7 linked regions of the Homo sapiens genome follow. The protein of the gene in region 7 purifies or fractionates together with the protein of the main gene of each other region. This does not show direct contact. Each region holds a gene or a part of one and is shown on either strand. Other genes may lie near its edges. The genes, in order: EMC2, PPP3CA, SCCPDH, SFXN1, SUCLG2, USP48 and OGDH.

Region 1 (3,500 bases), on a different chromosome or scaffold from region 7:
ATCAAATAGGCATTTTGTTTTAAAGCTCACAGGGCTGCCAAATGTCTGGCCAAAATGTATTGTGTATGGACTCTTTTAGAACAGTAAAACTATTAAATAATTGGAGATTTTAACCTTACATTAACATATTTTACACTGCTGAAACATGTAAGAATGCATTCTTAGTTTCAGAGATAATACAATAAATCAGTTTTCAGTTATAAGTAATGTTCTCTAGAAATATCAGAAACTAGAATTCATTAATTTCCATTTGGGTTTGTTTTAATATTAAATTCAGTTTTTTTCCCCCTTTATGTGTATCTAGTTTGGATCATATATGAACAGGTGATGATTGCAGCACTAGACTATGGTCGGGATGACTTGGCATTGGTAGGTATTTAAATGAAGTATATATTTAATTTGCTTCATCAATTGTATACCGTAGTTAAGACTTAATGTATGGCTTATATGGAATGCTTTCAATAGCTAGTTTTGAGTGCTACTCTGAACAGTAAGTGGAACTAACTAGATATTTTAGGACAAAGTATCTTATATCTTTTTATTAGTCCTGAGAAGTAGCTGTTTAGTATCCCAGTTTTACTGTAAAGATTTAGTTACTGAAATTTATCTGCTTAGTAAGTGACTTATCCTATTTTATAGAGTTTAAAATAAGAAAGTTTAAAACAATTTTGTATTTTGTGTTATTGAATGACTTTCACAGAATGTAATGTTCAATACTGTTACACAATATTATAAACATATCTGACATAAGAAAATCCCGACGTATAGAACATAACATAAAATACTAATAATGTTTGGCCAGGCAAGGTGGCTCACACCTGTAATCCCAGCACTTTGGGAGGCCGAGGCAGGCAGACCACCTGAGGTCAGGAGTTCGAGACCAGCCTGGCCAACGTGGTGAAACCCCGTCTCTAGTAAAGATACAAAAAATCAGCCAGGCGTGGTGGAGCGTGCCTCTAGTCCCAGCTACTCTGGGGGCTGAGGCAGGAGGATCGCTTGAACCTGGAAGGCAGAGATTGCAGTGAGCTGAGATTGTGCCACTGCACTCCAGCCTGGGCAACAGAGCGAGACTCTGTCTCAAAAAAAAAAAAGAAAAAAATCAAACAAACCTAATACTGCTTTTAAAATAACACTGTAATGGTAGCTATGTTTTTGGACTCATGCTAGGAACGAAGCTAAATGCTTTACATCATGATTTTATTGAGCCTTCATAATTATTTCTTGATTTGATTTGTGTTTGATGTTATTATTATATTTATTTTATAAATCAGAAAGCAGAGGCATCTGTTAATGTTGTTCCTATCATCTTGAATTCTTAAGTACCGCTTCATGCTGCCTCTGTATTTAAACTGAAAGAAAATATGCAAAAACAAAAAATTGAAATACCTGAAAAAAATTCACATCTGAATTAGTATTGTCCTTTTCAAGGTTGGGTTGGCTATACATGTAATTCTAGTGGAGCTGTTAGTGATGAAAACATTCCACAAAACCTTTGTTGGATTACCTTCAGAACCTATGAGACATAGTCTTTTGAATATTCATAGAGGTGACCGTTTTATGTCTTGAGAGAGGTTTTTATTTTTATTTTTTTTGAAATAGCCAAATATCACTTGATAAAGTAGGAAGTCAAATTAGATAACACTATTGATTAATAAAGCAGTATACACAATTAAACAGTAACTTTATAATGGTTAAGATTATTTATACAGTTAGCTTGCTTGACTGACCAAGTAATATGATTTTGCTTGATATCAAAGAAATAAATGAACATATCTTCACTTTTGATTAACTTGAATATTTTTCTTAGTGTGGCAAATTTCAGCCACAAACTTTGAAGCTGTATTTCCAATTCATATTAAAACTTATTTTATTACCAGTTAATAGTTTCATCAGTAGTTAATGGCATTGTTTTGGTCACACATGCATTAATATGCTTCAGTGGACTATTTGTATCATCTTTAACATTTCTAGGACTTCCAAAACTTTGAATCCTTCATATGTTGCTGAGAATGTAGATACTCAGTAAATATTTGATTATTTATTTAGTCAAGTTGATGAGTCAATTATGGATACTTGTTCAAAGAAATTGGTATTCCATCCGTTTAATGTCTGTATTTTCTGACCCCAAATCAGGATATGTTGATTGAAAGGATGATTGATTGGCTGGGTGCGGTGGCTCATGCCTGTAATCCCAGCAGTTTGGGAGGCCAAGGCAGGCGGATCACCTGAGGTCAGGAGTTCGCGACCAGGCTGGCCAACATGTTGAAACCCCGTCTCTACTAAAAATACAAAAATGAGCTGGGTGTGGTGACAGGCGCCTGTAGTCCGAGCTACTTGGGAGGCCGAGGCAGGAGAATCGCTTGAACCCAGGAGGTGGAGTTTGCAGTGAGCCAGGATCGTGCCACTGCATTCTAACCTGGGTAACAGAGCAAGACTCCATCTCAAAAAAAAATAAGAAAGGTTGGCTGATTAATATAAAATTTCAACAGGGCAAAATTAATCAGTGTTTATGTTATTTGCTAGGAACTTGAGATGACTACTAAAAAACTTAGTTCTTACCAGGAGAATGCTTATGCTGTAATTAGGAAGAAAACGCCAGGCGCTGTTGTCATTTAAGTAGGGGCCTGACACATTATAGAAGTAGTTTTTAAGGAGGAATAATATGATATTAGTACTTAAAGAGTTATTAGTGGTTCTCATAATCTGTTCATTTTCCTGGTTAAGAGCATGATCAGTTTCTGAGAACTGATTGTTGCCTTCACTGTAATGTCATAGTGCTTCTTTCAATCCATTATTTGTTACTGATTAATTTCACTTCATGTTATTAGATGACACTAATGAAATTATTCAAGAAGACACATTGAAGACTATATAGGCCATCCATTGTAGCCCATTTAGTATAAATAATGTAATTACTACTCAACCCTTATTTTTTCAGTTTTGTCTTCAAGAGCTGAGAAGACAGTTCCCTGGCAGTCACAGAGTCAAGCGATTAACAGGCATGAGATTTGAAGCCATGGAAAGGTAACCAAATCTTATCAGCTGGCAGGCATGGAGCCTGTTAATCATGGTGGTGTTAATTTTTTTTTTTTTAATTCAGACATTCTAGAGTGTGTGGAATACTGTCTCAATATGGCTTTAATTTACATTTTTTGATGACTAATGAGGTTGAAAACCTTGTCATGTTTGCTTAGATATTCAAATAACTTCTTTTTGAAGTATCTTCTTTAGTCTTTACCCATTTAAAAAATTGCGTTATTTTACCTTTTTTACTGCTGATTTGTAGGAGGTCTTTATATATTCTGGATAAAAGCTTTGTCAGATATATGTGCTGTGAATATTTCTCCCTATTCTCTTGCTTGAATATTTTATTTTCTAAATGGTGCCTTGTGAAGTTTTTAGTTCTGATGAAGTTCAGTTTATCATTTTTTTTTTAATGCTTAGTCATTCTTTTGTCCTGTCCAATAATTCTTTTCTAATGTTTCAACAATATTCGGTAG
Region 2 (3,304 bases), on a different chromosome or scaffold from region 7:
TCTTATAATTCAGTCCATGTAAAAGAAATTTTCCTAAGTGTTTTCCTAAAGGGTTGTTTGTTATTTATTTAGTGGGCAAAAACCAAAACATTTAATTCAGATAGGCGTACCCAGCTCATAAATTAAATTTATAATTTCTGTGGCATTTTTTTTCTTTTTTTTTTTTTTTTTTTTTTTTTAGCATTTCTGTTTTGTTGTCTGTGCCAGAATCTAGCACTTACAGGAACATTAGTTCTCTTAGCTCCTTTGATGGTCACTGATTTGTTCTTAGAGTTAAAAAATCCTCTGCTCATTTTTCTCATTCATTTTGCACCCCCTTTCTTCTCTTCAGCTACTGTTGAGGCTATTGAGGCTGATGAAGGTAAATTGGCCAGTCCCCTTTCTGTTGTACCTGCAACAGATAAGGGCTCTGCTGGGTGTATTCATTTTTTTGCTGTAGCTTGTACAGAGTGTGTGGGTGTTGAGCTAACAGTTGTGGCTCAGTATTAACCAAAATGTTCTTGCTTTAAAGGGGAAAATGTCCTTCTATGGTTTGTTTGTTTGTTTCTTTCCCTTAAAGCTATGTTTGACTTTTGTATATGATGAATACTATAATCACAGAAAACAAAAGGATTATATATTTTGAATGATGTGGGGTGGGGGTTATGGCAGCTGTTTTGACCAGTAGCTTATAAAACAATAATCTTTGAGCTGAACCATGTCCCTCCCTCAAATCACTTTCAGGCAGCACTGAAGAGAATAAAAATAGCCATCTTAATTCTAGTCTTCAGAAGTTTGTAGCCAAAGGAAAAAAATGTTCATTTAAATAGTGCTTTGTTGTAGTTCAACATTAATTTGTATCTCTAAAAAATATTCCAACATGAGACAGCTGTATATAAGATGAACAGTTCTGGTAATCTTAAATCAAATTGTAACCTACTGGTATTTGTATGAGAATTAACACCAGCAAAATATTATAAAAAGTTCAAAAGCATCTAGTGGCTGTGGAAGTGGCCGATAACAAGAATAGCGAGTATCAAGTAGCACTCAATTGATGAATGTGTACTGAGTGTCTGCTTTGTGCCAGGCACTGTACTAGGAGCTGCAGGGGACATCAAGAAGTGTCCATCTCCAGCTGTGTTCTAGCACTGCTCAAGGACAGTAGAGTCGAACCTTTAGTATTTGCTTTTTACTTGACTGTTGTTTAAATATATAGTTATAAGAGAACTGCATATCAAAATAGTTTTTAATATTTATTATACATACCATATCCTTTGGAAATTTCAAAAATAATAATTTGAAGTTCCCCTTTAAAACAAAATTCTTCAGTTGTATTTTGTTCTTGCAAGGTAACTTTTTTGTTTTTCTCAAAATTATGTGCATATGGTCCTTTGGTGTGATACAAAAAGTGCCACTTTAGACTCTTCCAATTTGTACATGATTTGGATATGGTAGGGGAAACAATAGCACTGTAAGAGAAAATACAACTGCTTCCTAAATAGCAGTGAATAAACTGCTATTTATGTGGGAATTCTCTATTCCTCTTGGCAAATTCTAATCTGCAGTGTGCATTCTTGTTGATAGTTTGGCTGTTTTCTGTGGTTTCTGTGACTCTGTGTTGTGTTAAGTATACTACCAATGTAAATTGCTAATACCCATTGTCTGACCAGCAACTACAGCAGAGCACATTCTTCCATACCAGGATGACAAAAATGATTAGAAATGGAGCCCCATTCCAGAAGTATCCATTGTTCTAGCTACATTTTTAACACTCCCACCCTATTGGCTTTTAAAACCTAGAAATTTCACTTTTACCATTTAAATTAATTAAATCATTTCATAAATGATAATGATGACAAACTTTTATACCTGTTAATTATGATGAAATTATATTCACAGTAGTCTAAAAAAGACAGTAGAGTACCACTTCATGCTATTCTTTTGTATTTCAAAATAATTGAGTTAGTTTTCAGGGTGGGTGCTCATTAGACAGCTCTATTATTTTGCAATTTATTACTAAATTAGAGAAGAATTAACAAGCTTTGCTTTGGGCCTTGGTCTTTCCCCATTTTCGCATCTTATTCCTCTCACAGTTGACTAATCACCATTATGCTAACCTTTAAAATGCAGAGGGGGGAAAAACTATTTCTCATCTTTTAATGAGTATTGAAACAACTGTGTATATCTTTTAGGAATCTCATCCATACTAATAAAAGGCACTGCACATTTGTGTAGGAGTGGCTGGTAAAGTTTCAGCTTGAAACTGCTTTCCTTTTTTTTTTTTTCCCCCCCAAATAAGGTTGGGAGGATAAAGGTACCATGAAATTATCCTTAATCAGCCATGGTGATGCAGCCCAATTGAGCATTGGTGATTGGCCCTGAAATATCTGGCTTGCACTTCACAGGGAGTAAAGCAAACTGATGTCATTGGTTCCCCATTTATGTGTTTTATTTGCAGCTCACCAGTTGGTGTACTCACTGAAGAAATCATTAAGTTTTTTGTACAAATGCCTTACCTATCGCTGTAGCACACCAAAGATTACTTTTTAAAAAAATCAAATATCATTCCCACTTTGAGAATTCCATGTTTTAATTGAATAGGACCAAAACCAGTTCAATGCATTTTTGCTAAATATTGTGAAAGGCATTTTTTTCCTTGTTATTATTTAACCATCACTTACATCTACATTGATCTACTGAGTTTTTCTTTCATTTAGGCAGTAATGGATACCAGATGAACATCAGTTTGACCTGTTCACTGCTGAAGGGCAGACGATACATTTCTACCTAGTGACCTTATCTTGATTTTTTTTTTTAGTTTCTCTTACCTTGTCACTCACTCCACATGCTTCCAAAGTTAAGTGGAGACAGGAGTTTATAATTTCTTTTTTTTTCATGTCATCATTGAGTTGCTTGTCAAGAAGTTCTTTCTGGGATTCTGAGATGGCATGGAAATGCCCCGGTTAATTCCTTTTCTAGCTCCTTTTAGCTCCTGCTTTAAGCCCTTTGCTAGGTTTTTAGGTATAGCAAACATACTGATTCCACTGAATTTGCCATTACCTAGTACAATGGAGGAATACAAAGAGGGACATGCTGCAGCCTGTCTAGGTTAAGGTGTTTGATGCTTATGATGTGGCCAGTTGATGCTGGTTCTAGAGGCTTGTCCCTGAAAGCAGCTTTCCTCTTTATGTGTCCACTTTGGATTTCTTTGAGCTAAACTTTCATGAAGACAGGAGAAATGCTTACATCTTAATAACTTCAAGAGGACATTTTGGTTGGCAAGAGACATTGGCTGTTTTCAAACCTTTGGTTACTTCCGAGTATG
Region 3 (3,500 bases), on a different chromosome or scaffold from region 7:
GGGAGCACTGCCTGAGCCCAGGCATTCGTTACGGTGAGCTACGGCAGAGCAAGATCCTGTCTCTTAAAAAACTTTTTAAAATGGCACTGGATTAAAATTTTATATAGTATTTTCTTTTTACTTTTAATTTCATAAGCAAGATTTGTAGTTTGTGTGTGTGTGTGCTATCTTTGTTGGACTTTGGTTTCATAGTTATGCTAACTTTTTAATATATGCTGGAACATTTTCCAATTTTTTAAGTCTAGAACACTTTATATGGTACTGAAGTTACCTGTTTCAGTTTTGTTTTTTGTTTTTGTTTTTTTGTTTTTTTGCTTTTTTCTAAGAGACAAGGTCTCACTCTGTAACCCAGGCTAGAGTGCAGTGGTGCAATCATAGCTTACTAAAGCCTCAAACTCCTGGGTTCAAGTGATCCTCCTACCTCAGCCTCCTGAGGAGCTGGGACTGACTACAGGTGTGCACCACCACACCTGGCTAATTTTTTTTTATTTCTTAGGGACGAGTCTTACTATGTTGCCCAGGCTGGTCCTGAACTCTTGGCCTCGAGAGATCCTGCTGCCTCAACCTCCCAAGTAGCTAAGATTATGGGTGTAAGCCACCACACCCTGCTCAGGTAATTTTCTAAACCAGACACTCTTAAATATGCAAAACATCAGTAACTTCAAATGTTTTATCGTAACATTATTTTCTCCATTCTTAAATAAGTGTCTCCAATTCTGTGTTCAATACTTTCTAGCTTTGACGGTTAAAAATTTAAAACCTTTTAACTATAATATACAAATTATGCTTTAAAATGTGCTGATTCCTAAACAAAGCAAGTTTGAATTTATAACGTTGCCAAAGTTGTTTTCCAGAAATTTTACAGCCCAAACTATACTGAGACAATAATATATCACTGTAAAATACAGTATTATCCATGTCTCAACAATAGTCTCAATAGCATTTTATTAAAAGTGCAGCTATATTAAAAACAAAACATGTGTTTAATATTACCCATTTATGGCTATGTTTCTTTTTTCAACTAGATTTTAGTTCACCACAGTTAGAAACATGAAGCCTTTGCACGGTACTGTTAAATTCCATTATTGCTTATTGATCAATAATTACCATTCATTTTATTTCTGGTATATATTACTCCCAGATCTGCTGGAATGGAGTCAAAGCCGCTGCTTCCAATGATATAAACCCCTTTGTCTGCAGCTTTCTCATGATACTTCAGTTGCATTAGTTCCAGAAACTAAAAAATCCAGGATAAGAATTTTAATTAGTTATGCAGAAAGATGTAGACCAGTATTAAATAATTTATCTTTAAAAACAAAGCAACCAAACTTTGAAAATGCTAAGCAGTGTGGCTCTGCAGCAAAACATTAACTGTCAAAATATTTTCCACTTATTCGGCAAATACAGCGCCTACTGCACACCAGGTGGTACAGAAGTTGTGCTCGTCTGACTGTATGACACTTAATTTTTTTAGAATGACTTTTAAATATAAAAGTAATGCCTATTATAAAATATTAAAATATAAAAAATAGAAAGCAAAAAAAAAATGACCCCAAACAGCATTACCCAGATGAACATCATCACAGACATAAAGCTCCGCACACGTACAGACAGAGAGCAGGAAAGTAGATGGTGGCAGAGGGCACAGGGGAATAATGTCTGCTCTGCTCTTCTGCCTGTTTTTAGAAATTCCTTTTTAAAAACAGTTTAAGATTTACAGAAAAATTGAATAGTAGAGAGTTCCCAAGTACTCTGAAACCCAGTTTTCTCTATTTTTAACATCTTTTACATGAACAGTGGTTACAATTAATGAACCAGTACTGACATATATGATTTAATTCACTAAAGTTCACAGTTCATTCTGATTCCCTTAGTTTTAACTGAACCCCTTTTTCTGCTCCAGGATCCCATCCAGGATTACATTCGGTTGTTACGTCTCCTTCGGCTTCTTTTGGCTGCGACGGTTTCTCACACTTTCCTTGTCTCTGATGACCTTGATGGTTTTGAGGAGTACTGGTCAGGCATTTTGTAGAGTGCCCCTCTACTGGAATTTGTCTCATGCTTTTCTCATTATTATTATGAGTTTTGGAAAGAGACCACAGGGGTAAAGTGCTATTCTTATCATATCATATCACATCGGGGCTACGCACTGTCAACATGATTTACCAGGGTTAATGCTGACTTGAACACCTGGCTGAGGCAGTGTTCACCAGGTTTCTCCACTGTCAATTTATGCTCCCTCTCCCAGAAGGTGACACACAAACACAATCACACCTGTTCAAGCACATACCAGACACAAACACACACCACACACACCCATTCATGCACATACACAAACACACACGAACACAATCACACACACACACTTGCTCATGCACACACAAACACATTAAGTCACACTAACATAGTCACACACATACAAACACATTAACACACTCAGTCACACACACAGCTGCTTGCACATAAATGTGGAGAAGCTACATAAATCATTTGGAATTCTTCCACAAAGAAGATTTGTCTCTTCTCATCCCTGCCTTTTTGGTTTTGTTTTGTTTTGAGACGGAGTCTCGCACTGTTGCCCGGGCTGGAGTGCGATGGTGCAGACTCGGCTCACTGCAACCTCCACCTCGCGGGTTCAAGCGATTCTGCTGCCTCAGCTTCCCGAGTAGCTGGGTTTACAGCACCTGCCACCACGCCCAGCTAATTTTCTATTTTTAGTGGAGACAGGGTTTCTCCATGTTGGTCAGGCTGGTCTCAAACTCCTGACCTCAGGTGATCCACGTGCCTCGGCCTCCCAAAGTGCTAGGATTACATCCCCTGCCCATTTTTAAAATAAATTGTCTTTATTTCTATTATTGTCTTGTAAAAGTTCTTTAAATACTCTGGGTTTTTTTTTTTTGAGACGGAGTCCCACTCTGTCGCCAGGCTGGAGTGCAGTGGCATGATCTTGGCTCATTGCAACCTCCGACTCCCAGGTTCAAGCGATTCTCTTGCCTCAGCCTCCCAAGTAGCTGGGACTACAGGCGTGCACCACCACGCCCAGCTAACTTTTGTATTTTTAATAGAGATGGGGTTTCACCATGTTGGCCAAGATGGTCTCGATCTCTTGACCTCGTGATCCGCCTGCCTCGGCCTCCCAAAGCACTGGGATTACAGGTGTGAGCCACCGCACCCAGCCCTCTGGTTCTTTAATAGGTTTGTTGTTGTTGTTTTGAGACAGGATCCGACCCTGTTGCCCAGGCTGGAGTGCAGTGGCGCAATCTTGGCTTACTGCAACCTCCAACTCCTGGGTTCAAGTGATTCTCATGCCTCAGCCTTCTGAGTAGCTGGGATTGCAGACGTGCACCACCATGCTTGGCTGATTTTTGTATTTTTAGTAGAGATGGGGTTTCGCCATGTTGGCCAGGCTGGCCTCAAACTCCTGGCCTCAAGTGATCCACCCACTTTGGCTTCCCAGAGTGCTGAGATTACAGGTATGAGCCAACGTGCCCAACTCCTTA
Region 4 (3,500 bases), on a different chromosome or scaffold from region 7:
TAGTTGTTCAAAAGGAGGTTGAATTTTTTTTCTAAATCTTAGCCCCAAAAGAGAATGAAGTGGAGAAGGAAAATAAAGAGTCTGCAGGCAAATTCTCCTTTGACTCCATTCATATAGATATAGGTATAGGTATAAGTGTAGATATAGGCACATTAAAGGTGTATGTGTAGACATAGACATATAGCATTGCAAGTGCTGTTAGGAGGGCCCAGGACCGCTTAGCCTACAAATTGTATCTTTTTTCCCCAAGAGAAGGGATCTGGCATTTATTGAATGTCTATTCTGTACCAGGCTCTCTACAAATTTTATCTTACTTCATCCTCATAGTAACCCTCTGAGCTTGGTGTTATCTATATCTACGGAATGAGGAAACTGATGATCCCAGAGGATAAAAGCTTGCCCAGCACACAGATCCTAAGCCTGTGTGGCCTTATGGCTTTCTCCCTTCCCCAGTACGTCTCCTCTCTGGTTACTGGTGTTCACGTTTTCTGTTCCATGCCGCGGCTGGGCCCAGTGATGGTGGGTATGTGACGGATGCCTCTGTTTTAGGACTACGCCGGCTGTGCTGTTCTGGCAGTGGATTAACCAGTCCTTCAATGCCGTCGTCAATTACACCAACAGAAGTGGAGACGCACCCCTCACTGTCAAGTAAGGCTACGAGAATTGACCACTCTCTGCAGTTCTTCAACCTTCATTTTATTAAGTGGTGATACTCTCCTGTTTAAAAAAGCCTATGTGTGCATATTTTTATATTGTTCAGAATATTATGTAGCATCCTTTTTTGTAGCTTTTTTCTTTTTTAAAGTAAAGTGTTTCATTTTCTCTCTCCCTATCAAGAAAACAGTCTTCTTCCAGCCTGCCTTCTCAGACATTACTCGTGCCTTTGGAGGTACTGGTAGGATGTTACCTCCTTCTCACCCTGGAGCTCATGGCCCTGTAGAACACATGGCAGGCAGCACCGGCCTGGCCTCTGATAAGTGACAGGCTGTTCCGCCATCTACCCTGCCTGAGTTGACAGACACCAACGTTAAGAGTAGAGGAGACAAAGTGTGGTCTCTGCAGAAATCAAGGGGAGACCATGGCGGTGTGAACTTTATATCTGATATGTTTTTAAAATAGCTCATCTGTGGAGTCCAAAAGAAAGCAATGAGTTTTAATTTTTTGTCACCTGTTAAAAAAAAAATAGGCTCACAAGATTAGTTAACCAAAAACGTTAGTTAGCATAATTGTATTACACTTGAAAGAAAAGTGCTTCTCTTTTTTATCACTTAAAATTGCTTTTGACAACACATATTCTTCTACTATTGTTATATGGAACAAAGGATCTTGAAATCTGCAGCCAAGTGGTGTTTATTGCAATTAAAATTTCTTTTAAAAGAAGAGAGAATTGCTTGGGCTTTATAGTTTTTGGATGATAAGACTTAGTATTTTTATACAGTTAAGATATCATTTTTTAAATGGCAGCACTTCATTTTTGCTTTCAGTGTGTATATTAATATTTTGAGAAATATTTTTAAGCAAATATGCCCCAAACATTTAGCCCAATATGCATTCCCCTGTATTCATAGCTTCCTACACACAGCTCCCCTCCTTCTCACGAATACAAAGTCTGTATGTTTATTTATTTATTTTAACCAACTCACTTCAAAGAATACATGTCTACTTTTTTGGAGTTATAGTCAAGATACGTGTGAAGAATCCCATTGTTTATGGATCTGCTTGCTTTTTCTCTAGATTCCCCTACTTGTGGAGTGATAGTGAATGTTGTTTTGTAGACTCTTCATTCTGAATCATGCTCTTTTATATTTCCCTTTTATTTCTTCAAATAATGTTGCACCAGAGTTTCCTGACATGCCCTCGTCGTCCACACGATATCCTTTTTTCTTTTCAGTGAGTTGGGAACAGCTTACGTTTCTGCAACAACTGGTGCCGTAGCAACAGCTCTAGGACTCAATGCATTGACCAAGGTACTCAGATTTTTATTTCCATAATAAAGCTGTTTAATTTGTTATCACCTGCCTGGCTCTAAATCCCTCTATTATTTCTTAAACTAGTTCAAGTCATATGGCTTTCTTGTTATAGTGCTTATCTTCAGCTGCATATTTTAGTTATATCTTCCAATAAGTTTGGGAAGAGTTGTCACCAGTAACACCTACCAGGACTGTGGTCTGTGCCTGACTCTGTGTACGAAGTGCTAAATGTTCACCCATCCTGACAGCCCACCAGAGGCATTGCAGAGGGCAGTGTGCCTCAGGCCACAGCTCTGAAGAGAGGCAAGAGCATCTCTCTCTCTCTCTCTCTCTCCCCACTCCAAAGCCCATACTCCTGCAACCACACTTAGCTACAAGGCCTTAGAAGCTTGCATGGTCCCAGCACACCCATGTGGGAAATATACAAATACTGCTAGGAAAAGTTTTGAAAGCATTCTTGGCCTGAGTTTCTATGCAAATGGGACTCTGCATTTTTCAGAGTTTTCAAGAAGAAATAAGTTATTTCCATTTACTAGTACAGGAAAAATAAGATAAAGCTCTTGAAATTTTCTCCTCTGCAGCATGTCTCACCACTGATAGGACGTTTTGTTCCCTTTGCTGCCGTAGCTGCTGCTAATTGCATTAATATTCCATTAATGAGGCAAAGGTAAGACGAATATGCACTCTTAGTAGGGACATGTGCTTGACAGGAGAGTCTCTTGTAATAATTAGCTTTGTTGAAACTTTCAAATGCTTGTTTTAATATGTATAGGTGAAATTATATGAGATCTTGGATTTCTTTTGAAATACTCTGGGGTTGGGGATGAGGATGGGCGTCTTGAGAAAACAAGCTTAGCGATGAGTTACTGATTATTGAAGCAGACTGAGGAGTGCGGGGAGGGGGCTGATGCTGGAATAGTCTTTCTATGTCCGTATAATAAAAAGTTTAAAAGATATATCTCAAGCTTACATTGAGTTGTGCTTGGGTTGGACAAAGTCTATCCAAAGAAAGTTTATTCTCTAAAATAGATTCCTTTTTTTTCTCCAGAATTTTCTTTTGGGGCTTAAAGTACATTATTCTATATCTTTGGAAGTATTGTTGTAGAACTGGCAAAAATTAAAGGAGAAGAAAGAACAACAAAAGCATTTTGGAATGGATAACGAAAAACAGGGGTAACGGTAGAAGTTATACTTAGTGTTAGTAAATATAGTTAATAAATATACAGTAGGGCCATGTGCGAGTGACTGTTTCCATGTCAGCATATTAAGTTTGTTGACTTAATAATGCTGTGTATTATATCTGTTTCTCATTTGGAAAGTTGCTCAAATTTGCACATGAGCATAGATTGAAGTTAGTGTGTCCACCCTTTGAATCATATTGTTCCTGAAAAAGGTACACCCTGTTTTAAAAGTTTACTAGTGTTGTTTTACTTTTATTTCTATCAAAGGAGGATTAAACTTATCCATGGTATTTAAAAATAGATGTGTCTGCTGGGCGCAGTGGCTCACACCTGTAATCTCAGCACTTTG
Region 5 (2,197 bases), on a different chromosome or scaffold from region 7:
ATCTTCTGGCCAAGTCACTTCATTCAAAGGTGTGCTTGGGGACTATTTAACATGAGAACTGCTTTTCTGCCATTTTAGAGTGAACAACTCCTGTAGGAGAAATGTAATAGAATTTAAGTGTCTAATGAAATATCTCATCCTACATCATTTCCTGTGCTTTTATCTAGTTGGCAAGACAGAGCCTATTTATAAACAAAGACCTTGAAATATAGGCCTTGGAGAACTTGCCTTACCACAAAGAGTGCAGATAAAAAGAGGCACTGGGTCAGCACATTTCATATAAAGAGGCAAATGCTGGATTAAATAGAAATGGGTGGATTGAAAAGATGATGCAGCACTGATTCCCCTGGGACCCTGGGTCTACCCAAGCAGCAGTGAAGATGGCCGCTTGGCACTGTGTCTTCACCTTAAGGCTCACCTACTCCTGTTTTTACAGAGGAAGCTGGTGAAAGTCCTCTCTGGAAGGTGAAAGCATAAAATGTGGGAAGCTGCTACCTAAAATCTCCATGCTGGCTCTGCCATGTACTTGTTATGTAGTTTTGGGTAAATCGTTTAACTTCTTTGAGCCTTAACTTTTGTTTCCATACAGAGCACTATCATCCTCGTAATCTTCCCAAGAACTAATATCATTAAGTGCTTATGTATGCCAGGCACAGTGCTAAGTAACTTATACACAGCATATGAAATCTTTACAAAAACTATGAGTAGTCCTATTGTTCCTATTTTACAGATAAGGCAACTGAGGCACAGAGAAGTTAAATAACTTTTCCATGGTCACAGAGGCGGTAAGTGTCAGAGATGGGACTTGAACTGTTCTCTGTAATTATAAACGCTGCATGTTCTAAAGATATGCTAGTCTGCTTACCTACTTGAAAAATGAGGACAGTATAGCTGATGGTATAGATTGTGATGAGAAGCAAATGAAATGAGTGTAAAAGCATTTTTGTAAATGGTGCAGTATCTGTGGCAGGCCTGGCTGGCTTTGCACCACAGACTCCTGCTCCTCTTCTGCAGTAGAGTGCTATTGCTGGAAAGCAGCTGCCCAGCCAGAAACTACATTTCCCAGGCCCCCCTGCATCTCGAAGGGGACATGTGACTGAGTTCAGGCCAAAGGAATGTCACATGGCCATGACAATCTCCAAAGGGACTCTTCACACTCGGTTTTCCTTGTCTGCTTTCTGGAGTGTTCCTAGCTGGGGCAGCCCTGGAAGTCACCTTTTTGGTTCTGGTTGTGTTTTGTCTTGCTTTTTGTTTTTGAGATAGGCTCTCGCTGTGTCACCCAAGATGGAGTGCAGTGGTGTGATCTCAGCTCACTGCAGCCTCAGCCTCCGGTGCCCAAGTGATCCTTCTACCTCAGCCTCCCAAGTAGCTGAGACTAAAGGCACACATCACCACGCCCAGCTATTTTTTGTATTTTTTGTAGAGATGGGGTTTTTCCACATTGCCCAGGCTGGTCCTGAACTCCTAAACTCAAGGACTCCATCTGCCGTGGCCTCCCAAAATGCTGGGATTACAGGCATGAGCCCTTGCACCCAGCCAAATCACTTCTTGAAGATGGCAATGACTCCTTCAGCCTGGATACTTTAATAACTCTCTGGAGCCAAGCATCTTACCCACTCACCCTCTTAGACCTTATGGGAATGAGAAAGACCCTTCTATAATGTTAAGACTCTGAAATTTCTGCATTTTTCTGTTGTTACAGGAGCTAGCATTATTTTGACTAACATATGACTTTGTAAATGCTGTGGAAGGCAGCTTCTAAAATGGTTTTCAAAGATCAATCACTCTTGCCTCCTGGTAGTCACATCTTTGTAGAATCCGTCCCCCTTGAGTATGATCTGGACCCACAGCCTTACTTCTAATAGATAAGAACATGGCAAAAGTGATGGAGTGTCACTTCTGAGACTAGGTTACAAAAGCCTGTGGCTTCAGTCTTGCTCCCTTTAACTCTTTTTTCACTCTGATGAAGCAAACTACCCTGCTATGAGCTGCCCTCTGGAGAGACTCACCTGGGCAAGGAACTGAGGGCAAACTCTGGCCAACGGCTGATGAGGAACTGAGGCTCTGGGTCTAATAGCCAAGGAGGAAGTGCATCTGGCCAAGAACCATATAAGGGATCTTGGAAGCAAATTCTTCCCTAGTCAAGCCTTGAGATCACTACAGCTCGGCTGACACTGTGATTGCAGCCTTGTGAGAG
Region 6 (3,500 bases), on a different chromosome or scaffold from region 7:
AATTGTGGCTTTCAGCAAGTCAATATACCATCTGTAAAATAAAGATAAAATATTACTCCTTGGGGTGCAAAGGTTTTGCAGGCTGGTAAAAGCTATTCAAGGCCTGGCACCATGGTTCATGCCTGTAATCCAGCACTTTTGGAGACCGAGACAGGAGGACTGCTTAAGGCCAGAAGTTCAAGACCAGCCTGGGCAACAGAGCAAGACACTGTCTCTATAAAAAAAATAAGTTTAGGCCAGGCACAGTGGCTCACACCTGTAATCCCAGCACTCTGGGAAGCCGAGGCGGGTGGATCACCTGAGGTCGGGAGTTCAAGACCAGCCTGACCAACATGGAGAAACCCCGTCTCTACTAAAAATACAAAATTAGCCGGGCGTGGTGGTGCACGCCTGTAATCCCAGCTACTCGGGAGGCTGAGGCAGGAGAATTGCTTGAACCTGAGAGGCGGAGGTTGTGGTGAACCGAGATTGTGCCATTGCACTAGAGCGTGGGCAACAAGTGTGAAACTGTCTTAAAAAAATAATAATAATAATAATAAAATAAGTTTAGGCTAGACACAGTGGCTCACACCTGTAGTCGCAGCACTTTGGAAGGCCGAGGCAGCCACATCACTTGAGGTCAGGAGTTCGAGACTAGCCTGGCCAACATAGTGAAACGCTGTCTCTACTAAAAATACAAAAACTAGCCAGGCGTGGTGGCGGGCGCCTGTAATCCCAGCTTCTCAAGAGGCTGAGGCAGGAGAATCGCTTCAGCCCAGGAGGCAGACGTTGCAGTGAACCGAGATGGCGCCACTTCACTCTGGCTTGGGAAACAGAGGAAGACTCAAAAAAAAAAAAAAAAAAAAGTTTAAAAAAATGTTCAGGAAGAGAGCTCTCCCCCACCCCTTTCCACCCACCTTTTTCTTCTTGGATGCCGTCTCCCAGCATGTAGTCACTACAAGTGCTTGGACATAAGTAGAGTGCCTGCCGAAGCTCCAAGTTGAGAAACCACACTTGAAGAAATGTGTTGACATAACAAGTGGCTCCAAGGTTAGTCAGGCCCACAAATGAGTTCTACAAAAATACAAAATTCATAATTATAAAACCCATTTTCCTTTAAACAACCAATTTCTAAGCATTATTCTTAAATTTTCAGATTAAAAATGTGTAAGACCGTCACAACCAACATGGTATAGCCACCTTAAGTTTCTCTTGGCTGGAGGTGGGGCATAATTTTCATGAAAGCCCCATTTTGGGTTGACCACAGGAGTGAAAAAGACTTCGGACGGCATCACTGCTCATCTCTAGCATATCGTCTTCTCCAGCCACTTAAATCTAAAATTAGAACAGTGGATTCTAGAAAAGATCGGTTTTGAACAAGCGTATATAGGTTTTATGTTTTCTGTATTTCTAAACTGCCAGCATTCAGCAGAATGACAAAGTAAAACTTATGCAGAAAACTTCCTTTATATTCTAGAGATTTTAAAGATTGGCGGTGGTAGAGGGAACTGGCTGCAACTTTTTCCAAAGATAAGGTTGGGAATTCCTGACCTTACAAAGAATTATTATTTTATTAAAATATCTATATATAACAAACTTGGATATTTCGTGAATGCTAAGATTTATGTCTAGAAAATTTAATGTATATTTTTAAAAAGCAAAATTATATATAAAATACAAGCCCTAGAAAGCAAAGTGCTATCATCATGAGTTTGTTCCCTTGAATTACCATCTCCTTTAAAGAGGCGTTAAGATTTCAAAATAAAACATGCAATGTTAAAGCAAACATAGAATCAGCATTCAAACTAAAACTATTATTTAAAGGCTTACTGAATTACGCAGCTGCCTGTTTTAAAGCATATCATTAAGAAGTGTTCCAATTCAAGTGGCTTAGAGTCTTAAGTTCTACTGCTTATCTTAAAGCTGCACAGGTTACCTGAAATCAGTAGAGTTTTCTGATCACAGGCCCAAAACAAAAGCAAAAACAAAAACAAAAAACAGCATATAGCAATCGCTTAAAAAATGATGGTTTACCTTTTTTCTCCTCTCACAGTTGGGATCATCGATGTTATGAAAACTATTTTCATCTATTTCTCCTAACCAAATATGCTCACCAATACCAACCAAGCAATTCGGATTTCCTTTGCAGTTTCGTCTAAGGGGAAAAAAAAAACCTTTAATTTTTAAAAGACCATAGTTTCATGAGAGACAAACAAATTAAAACTAAAATGAGATACCACTTCTCATCTATAAATTAGCAAAACTGAGAAAGTATAAGACACTCAGTTTGTGAGGGTGTGGAGAAGAAAGCATGCATATACTGCTGGTAGAAATGCAGTCACTAACAAAACTACATAGACAACTACCTTTAGACCTAGCAATCTCATTTCTGAGGATTTACTGTTCCTTAGGCTATACCTCCAACAATGCAAAATCTCACTCATAAGGTTATTCATTACAGCACTGTCTGTTAATTGCAAAATATTGGAAGCCACCCAAATGCCCAAAAATAGACAATATGGTACATCTATATGGCAGAGTACTATGCAACTGTAAAACACACACACACACACACACACACACACACACACACACAGCATGAAAAAGATATCTATGAACAGATATAAGGTAATTTATAAATCCAGGACACATTATTAAGTAAAAAAAGCAAAATGCAAAGGAGTATCTCTAGTATACTGTTATGTGTAAGAAATATATAAGGAAAATATACATGTACATATTTCTGCTCATTTTGTACAAAAAGAAATACAGAAAGGAAAAACAAGAGACTAATGAAATTGGTTACCTACAGAGCATGAGTGGGAATAAGGTTAAAAGAAAATACACCTTTTCGGCCGGACACAGTGGCTCACACCTGCAATCCCAGCACTTTGGGAGGCTGAGGCAGGCGGATAACAAGGTCAGGAGTTCGAGACCAGCCTGAAACCCTGTCTCTACTAAAAATACAAAAATTAGCCGGGCGTGGCGGTGCGGGCCTGTAATCCCAGCTACTTGGGAGGTTGTGGCAGAAGAATCCCTTGAACCCAGGACACGGAGGTTGCAGGGAGCCGAGATTACACCACTGCACTCTGGCCTGGGCGACAGAGCAAGACTCTGTCTTGGAAAAAATGAATGAATGAATGAATGAATGAATGAATGAATGAAAAGGAAATGTACCTTTTCATATAATGAACAATTTGGGACCATGTGACTGTTTCTCACACTACTTCACGCATGCACACAAACAAAAATAAATCAACTGGCTAGGCGTGGTGGTTCACGCCTGTAATCCTAGCCCTTTGGGAGGCCAAGGCAGGAGGATCACTTGAGGTTAGGAGTTTTGAGACCAGCCTGGCCAACATGGTGAAACCCTGTCTCTACTAGAAATACAAAAATTAGCCAGGTGTGGTGGTACACGTTTGTAACTCCAGCTACAGGCTGAAGACTGGAGGCTGATGCAGGAGAATTGCTTGAACCCAGGAGGCGGAGGTTGCAGTGAGCCAAGATCGTGCCACTGCACT
Region 7 (3,500 bases):
GGAGTGCAGGGTCCCCAGGGAGCGGCTCCTGAGCTGGGTGTTGAAGGGTGAGTAGAAGTTGAGTGGAGGGATACGTTGGAGAAGTGATTCATAAAAAGGAAGGAGGCCGGGCGAGGTGGCTCACGCCTGTAATCCCAGCACTTTGTGAGGCCGAGGCAGGTGGATCATGAGGTCAGGAGATGGAGACCATCCTGGCTAGCACAGTGAAACCCCGTCTCTACCAAAAAAAATACAAAAAAATTAGCCGGGCATGACAGCGGGCACTTGCAGTCCCAGCTACTTAGGAGGCTGAGGCAGGAGAATAGGAGAATAGCGTGAACCCGGGAGGCGGAGCTGGCAGTGAGCCGAGATCGCACCACTGCACTCCAGCCTGGGCAACAGAGCGAGACTCCGTCTCAAAAAACAAAAAAAAGGAAGGAGTGTGGGGGACAGCGAGGGAGTGCCCTGCTGCCCTGGGATACCGCGGGGGTGGGAGTATGGGGTGGAGGCTTGCAGCTCGGAGTGTCCCCAGCAGTCCAAGGGCCCACAGGGCAGGACAGCCCTGGTGCTTCTTGGTGCTGGGCCATGTCACAGCCTTACATGGGCTTTGGGTGCATTTGCTCTGAGACTGCCAAGGAGAGGGTCAGAGCTCTTTCCTAGGTACAGAGAAGCAGGGAAGGGAGTATTGGGAGTCCGAGCAGGCTGGGATGGGCCCTGCCAGGAGTGGATACCCAGCTAGGGGAGGTGAACAGCAGGGAAATTGGTCATCTTTCCTTTTCCCTCCTTCTCTGCCTCTTCTGACCTGAGGCTCCTGTTGAGTGGGAGGGCAGGTGTGTTTCATGGCCTGAAGGTCAAGGCTTGGGTAGCCTTGCTTTTGACCTTCCTTCTGGAATCTTCAGAATCTGATCCTTCACGAGCCTATTGTTCTGTATTTCAGTTAATTATCTTCACCCCCAAATCCCTGTTGCGCCACCCCGAGGCCAGATCCAGCTTTGATGAGATGCTTCCAGGTGGGTGTGAGGGAGATGGGCATTTCCTTGGGGGAAGCTATGTTTGGGGCTTCTTTGCTGCTGCTCTTTTACAGCTCATGGGACTGACATTTGTGATTCTCACTGGCTCTTGCCAGATTTTTGGTTGTAAAGACCCGTGATACATGGCTGGGCACAGTGGCTCACGCCTGTAATCCCAGCACTTTGGGAGGCCGAGGCAGGCAGATCATCTGAGGTCAGGAGTTCGAGGGCAGATCACCTGAGGTCGGGAGTTCGAGACTAGCCTGACCAACATGGAGAAACGCCATCTCCACTAAAAATACAAAATTAGCCAGGCGTAGTGCCACATGTCTGTAATCCCAGCTACTCAGGAGGCTGAGGCAGGAGAATTGCTTGAACCCAGGAGGTGGACGTTGCAGTGAGCTGCTATCACGCCATTGCACTCCAGCCTGGGCAATAAGAGCAAAACTCCGGCACAAAAAAAAAAAAAAAAGTCCCATGATACCAGATGAGGGAGGTCACAGCTTACATTCACGTTGGTCAAATGACATGTCTTAACATGCAGCCCAGGAGCTGTTGCCTCTCACCTGCAAATGCCCCCAAGGACTCCACTAGAGGCAATTAAGTATGTCCAAGATTGAGGGTTAGTGCCGCTGCCTGCGGCCTCCTTCAGCAGGTGAGTGGCAGCTCACCACTGGCTCAGAGGCCCAGCCCCAAAGCAAGCCCTTCAGGACAGAGAAAAAAACACTGGACGGCAGGTCCTGCCAAGTCACATGCCAGCTGCACTTGTGTGAAGGGAGACCCATAACATTGAGATTTCTATAGGGACAGTGGAGTGCAGGATGTTGACACAGCCTTTACCACCCACCAGGGGTCACCAGGCCAGGAAGCCTGCATCCCACCAGTCACCAAACCCCCTTTAGTCTTCAATCAAGGTGAGCCCCTTGTTTTTTGGGGGTTTTTTCCCAATCTTTTTTTATTTTTAATTTTATTTATTTATTTATTTATTTATTTTTGAGACGGAGTCTCGCTCTATCGCTCAGGCTGGAGTGTGGTGGCACAATCTCGACTCACTGCAAGCTCCACCTCCCGGGTTCACGCCATTCTCCCACCTCAGCCTCCCAAGTAGCTGGGACTGCAGGCGCCCGCCACCACGCCTGGCTAATTTTGTTTTTGTATTTTTAGTAGAGACGGGGTTTCACCGTGTTAGCCAGGATGGTGTCAATCTCCTGACCTCATGATCCACCCATCTTGGCCTCCTAAAGTGCTGGGATTACAGGCATGAGCCACCATGCCCAGCCCCCAGTCTTTTTTTATTATGGTAAAATACACAACATAAAATTTACCATTTTGACCATTTTTAAGTATCCAGTTCAGTGTGTTACTGCCTCTATAAATTTGACTACTCTATGGAACTCATAAGTGAAATCATACAGTCTTTGTCCCTTGCGACTGGCTTGTTTCATTTAGTATAATGTCTGCGAGGTCCATCCATGTTGTGTAGCATGTGTCAGAATTTCTTTTTTTTTAAGACTGAATAGCCAGGCATGGTGGCTCATGCCTATAATCCCAGCACTTTGGGAGTTCGAGGCAGGTGGATCACTTGAGGTCACAAGTTTGAGACGAGCCTGGCCAACAGGGTGAAACCCCGTCTCTATTAAAAATACAAAAATTAGCAGGGTGTGGTGGTGCACGCCCTGCTACTCTGGAGGCTAAGGCAGGAGAATTGCTTGAACCCGGGAGGCAGAGGTTGCAGTGAGCTGAGATTGCACCACTGCACTACAGCCTGGGCAACAGAGTAGGACTCCATCTCAAAACAAAACAAAACAAAAAAGACTGAATAGGCTGGGCCCAGTGGCTTACACCTGTAATCTCAGCACTTTGGGAGGCTGAGGCAGGTCGATCACTTGAGGTCACGAATTTGAGACCAGCTTGACCAATATGATGAAACCCCATCTCTACGAAAAATACAAAAATTAGCTGGGCATGGTGGCGCGCACCCGTAATCCCAGCTACTCAGGATGCTGAGGCAGGAGAATTGCTTGAACCTGGGAGGCAGAGGTTGCAGTGAGCCAAGATTGCGCCACTGCATTCCAGCCTGGGTGACAGAGACTCCGTCTCAAAAAAAATAAATAAATAAACTAGCCGGGGGTGGTGGCGCATACCTGTAATCCCAGCTACTCAGGAGGCTGAGGCAGGAGAATCACTTGAACATGGGAGGCAGAGGTTGTGGTGAGCCAAGATCACGCCGTTGCACTCCAGCCTGGACAACAAGAGCGAAACTCCGTCTCAAAAAAAAAAAAAGACTGAATAATACTCCATTATATGTGTATGCCACATTTTGCTCATCCATTCATCTGTCGATGGACACTTGGGTTGCTTCCATGTTTCAGCTATTATGATTAGAGGAGCTGCTATGAACATTGGTGTACAAATATTTCTTTGAGTCCCTGCTTTCAGTTCTTTTGAATATGTACTCAGAAGTGGAATTGCTGGACCATATGGTAATTCTATTTTTAGTTTTTTGAGGAA

What was found.
Region 1: the proteins of OGDH (region 7) and EMC2 fractionate together in Homo sapiens (co-fractionation; one large-scale study listed by BioGRID). This does not show direct contact.
Region 2: the proteins of OGDH (region 7) and PPP3CA fractionate together in Homo sapiens (co-fractionation; one large-scale study listed by BioGRID). This does not show direct contact.
Region 3: the proteins of OGDH (region 7) and SCCPDH fractionate together in Homo sapiens (co-fractionation; one large-scale study listed by BioGRID). This does not show direct contact.
Region 4: the proteins of OGDH (region 7) and SFXN1 fractionate together in Homo sapiens (co-fractionation; one large-scale study listed by BioGRID). This does not show direct contact.
Region 5: the proteins of OGDH (region 7) and SUCLG2 purify together in Homo sapiens (affinity purification with mass spectrometry; 2 studies listed by BioGRID, with this or other methods). This does not show direct contact.
Region 6: the proteins of OGDH (region 7) and USP48 fractionate together in Homo sapiens (co-fractionation; one large-scale study listed by BioGRID). This does not show direct contact.

The regions. Positions count from the first base shown.
Region 1 is NC_000008.11:108,450,124-108,453,623, forward strand, and holds part of EMC2 (ER membrane protein complex subunit 2), read left to right. Parts: intron 1-277; coding exon of another isoform or gene 278-304; coding exon 305-369; intron 370-2,938; coding exon 2,939-3,024; intron 3,025-3,500. UniProt on the Homo sapiens protein: Part of the endoplasmic reticulum membrane protein complex (EMC) that enables the energy-independent insertion into endoplasmic reticulum membranes of newly synthesized membrane proteins.
Region 2 is NC_000004.12:101,026,223-101,029,526, reverse strand, and holds part of PPP3CA (protein phosphatase 3 catalytic subunit alpha), read left to right. Parts: intron 1-331; coding exon 332-361; intron 362-3,304. UniProt on the Homo sapiens protein: Calcium-dependent, calmodulin-stimulated protein phosphatase which plays an essential role in the transduction of intracellular Ca(2+)-mediated signals. Many of the substrates contain a PxIxIT motif and/or a LxVP motif.
Region 3 is NC_000001.11:246,737,909-246,741,408, reverse strand, and holds part of SCCPDH (saccharopine dehydrogenase-like oxidoreductase), read right to left. Parts: intron 1,238-3,500; coding exon 1,108-1,237; intron 1-1,107.
Region 4 is NC_000005.10:175,509,560-175,513,059, forward strand, and holds part of SFXN1 (sideroflexin-1), read left to right. Parts: intron 1-549; coding exon 550-648; intron 649-1,891; coding exon 1,892-1,967; intron 1,968-2,551; coding exon 2,552-2,637; intron 2,638-3,500. UniProt on the Homo sapiens protein: Amino acid transporter importing serine, an essential substrate of the mitochondrial branch of the one-carbon pathway, into mitochondria.
Region 5 is NC_000003.12:67,376,416-67,378,612, forward strand, and holds part of SUCLG2 (succinate--CoA ligase [GDP-forming] subunit beta, mitochondrial isoform 2 precursor), read right to left. Parts: intron 91-2,197; coding exon of another isoform or gene 47-90; exon of another isoform or gene 1-46. UniProt on the Homo sapiens protein: GTP-specific succinyl-CoA synthetase functions in the citric acid cycle (TCA), coupling the hydrolysis of succinyl-CoA to the synthesis of GTP and thus represents the only step of substrate-level phosphorylation in the TCA.
Region 6 is NC_000001.11:21,755,650-21,759,149, forward strand, and holds part of USP48 (ubiquitin carboxyl-terminal hydrolase 48), read right to left. Parts: intron 2,135-3,500; coding exon 2,014-2,134; intron 1,056-2,013; coding exon of another isoform or gene 1,054-1,055; coding exon 897-1,053; intron 1-896.
Region 7 is NC_000007.14:44,700,627-44,704,126, forward strand, and holds part of OGDH (2-oxoglutarate dehydrogenase complex component E1 isoform 1 precursor), read left to right. Parts: intron 1-916; coding exon 917-989; intron 990-3,500. UniProt on the Homo sapiens protein: 2-oxoglutarate dehydrogenase (E1o) component of the 2-oxoglutarate dehydrogenase complex (OGDHC). Participates in the first step, rate limiting for the overall conversion of 2-oxoglutarate to succinyl-CoA and CO(2) catalyzed by the whole OGDHC.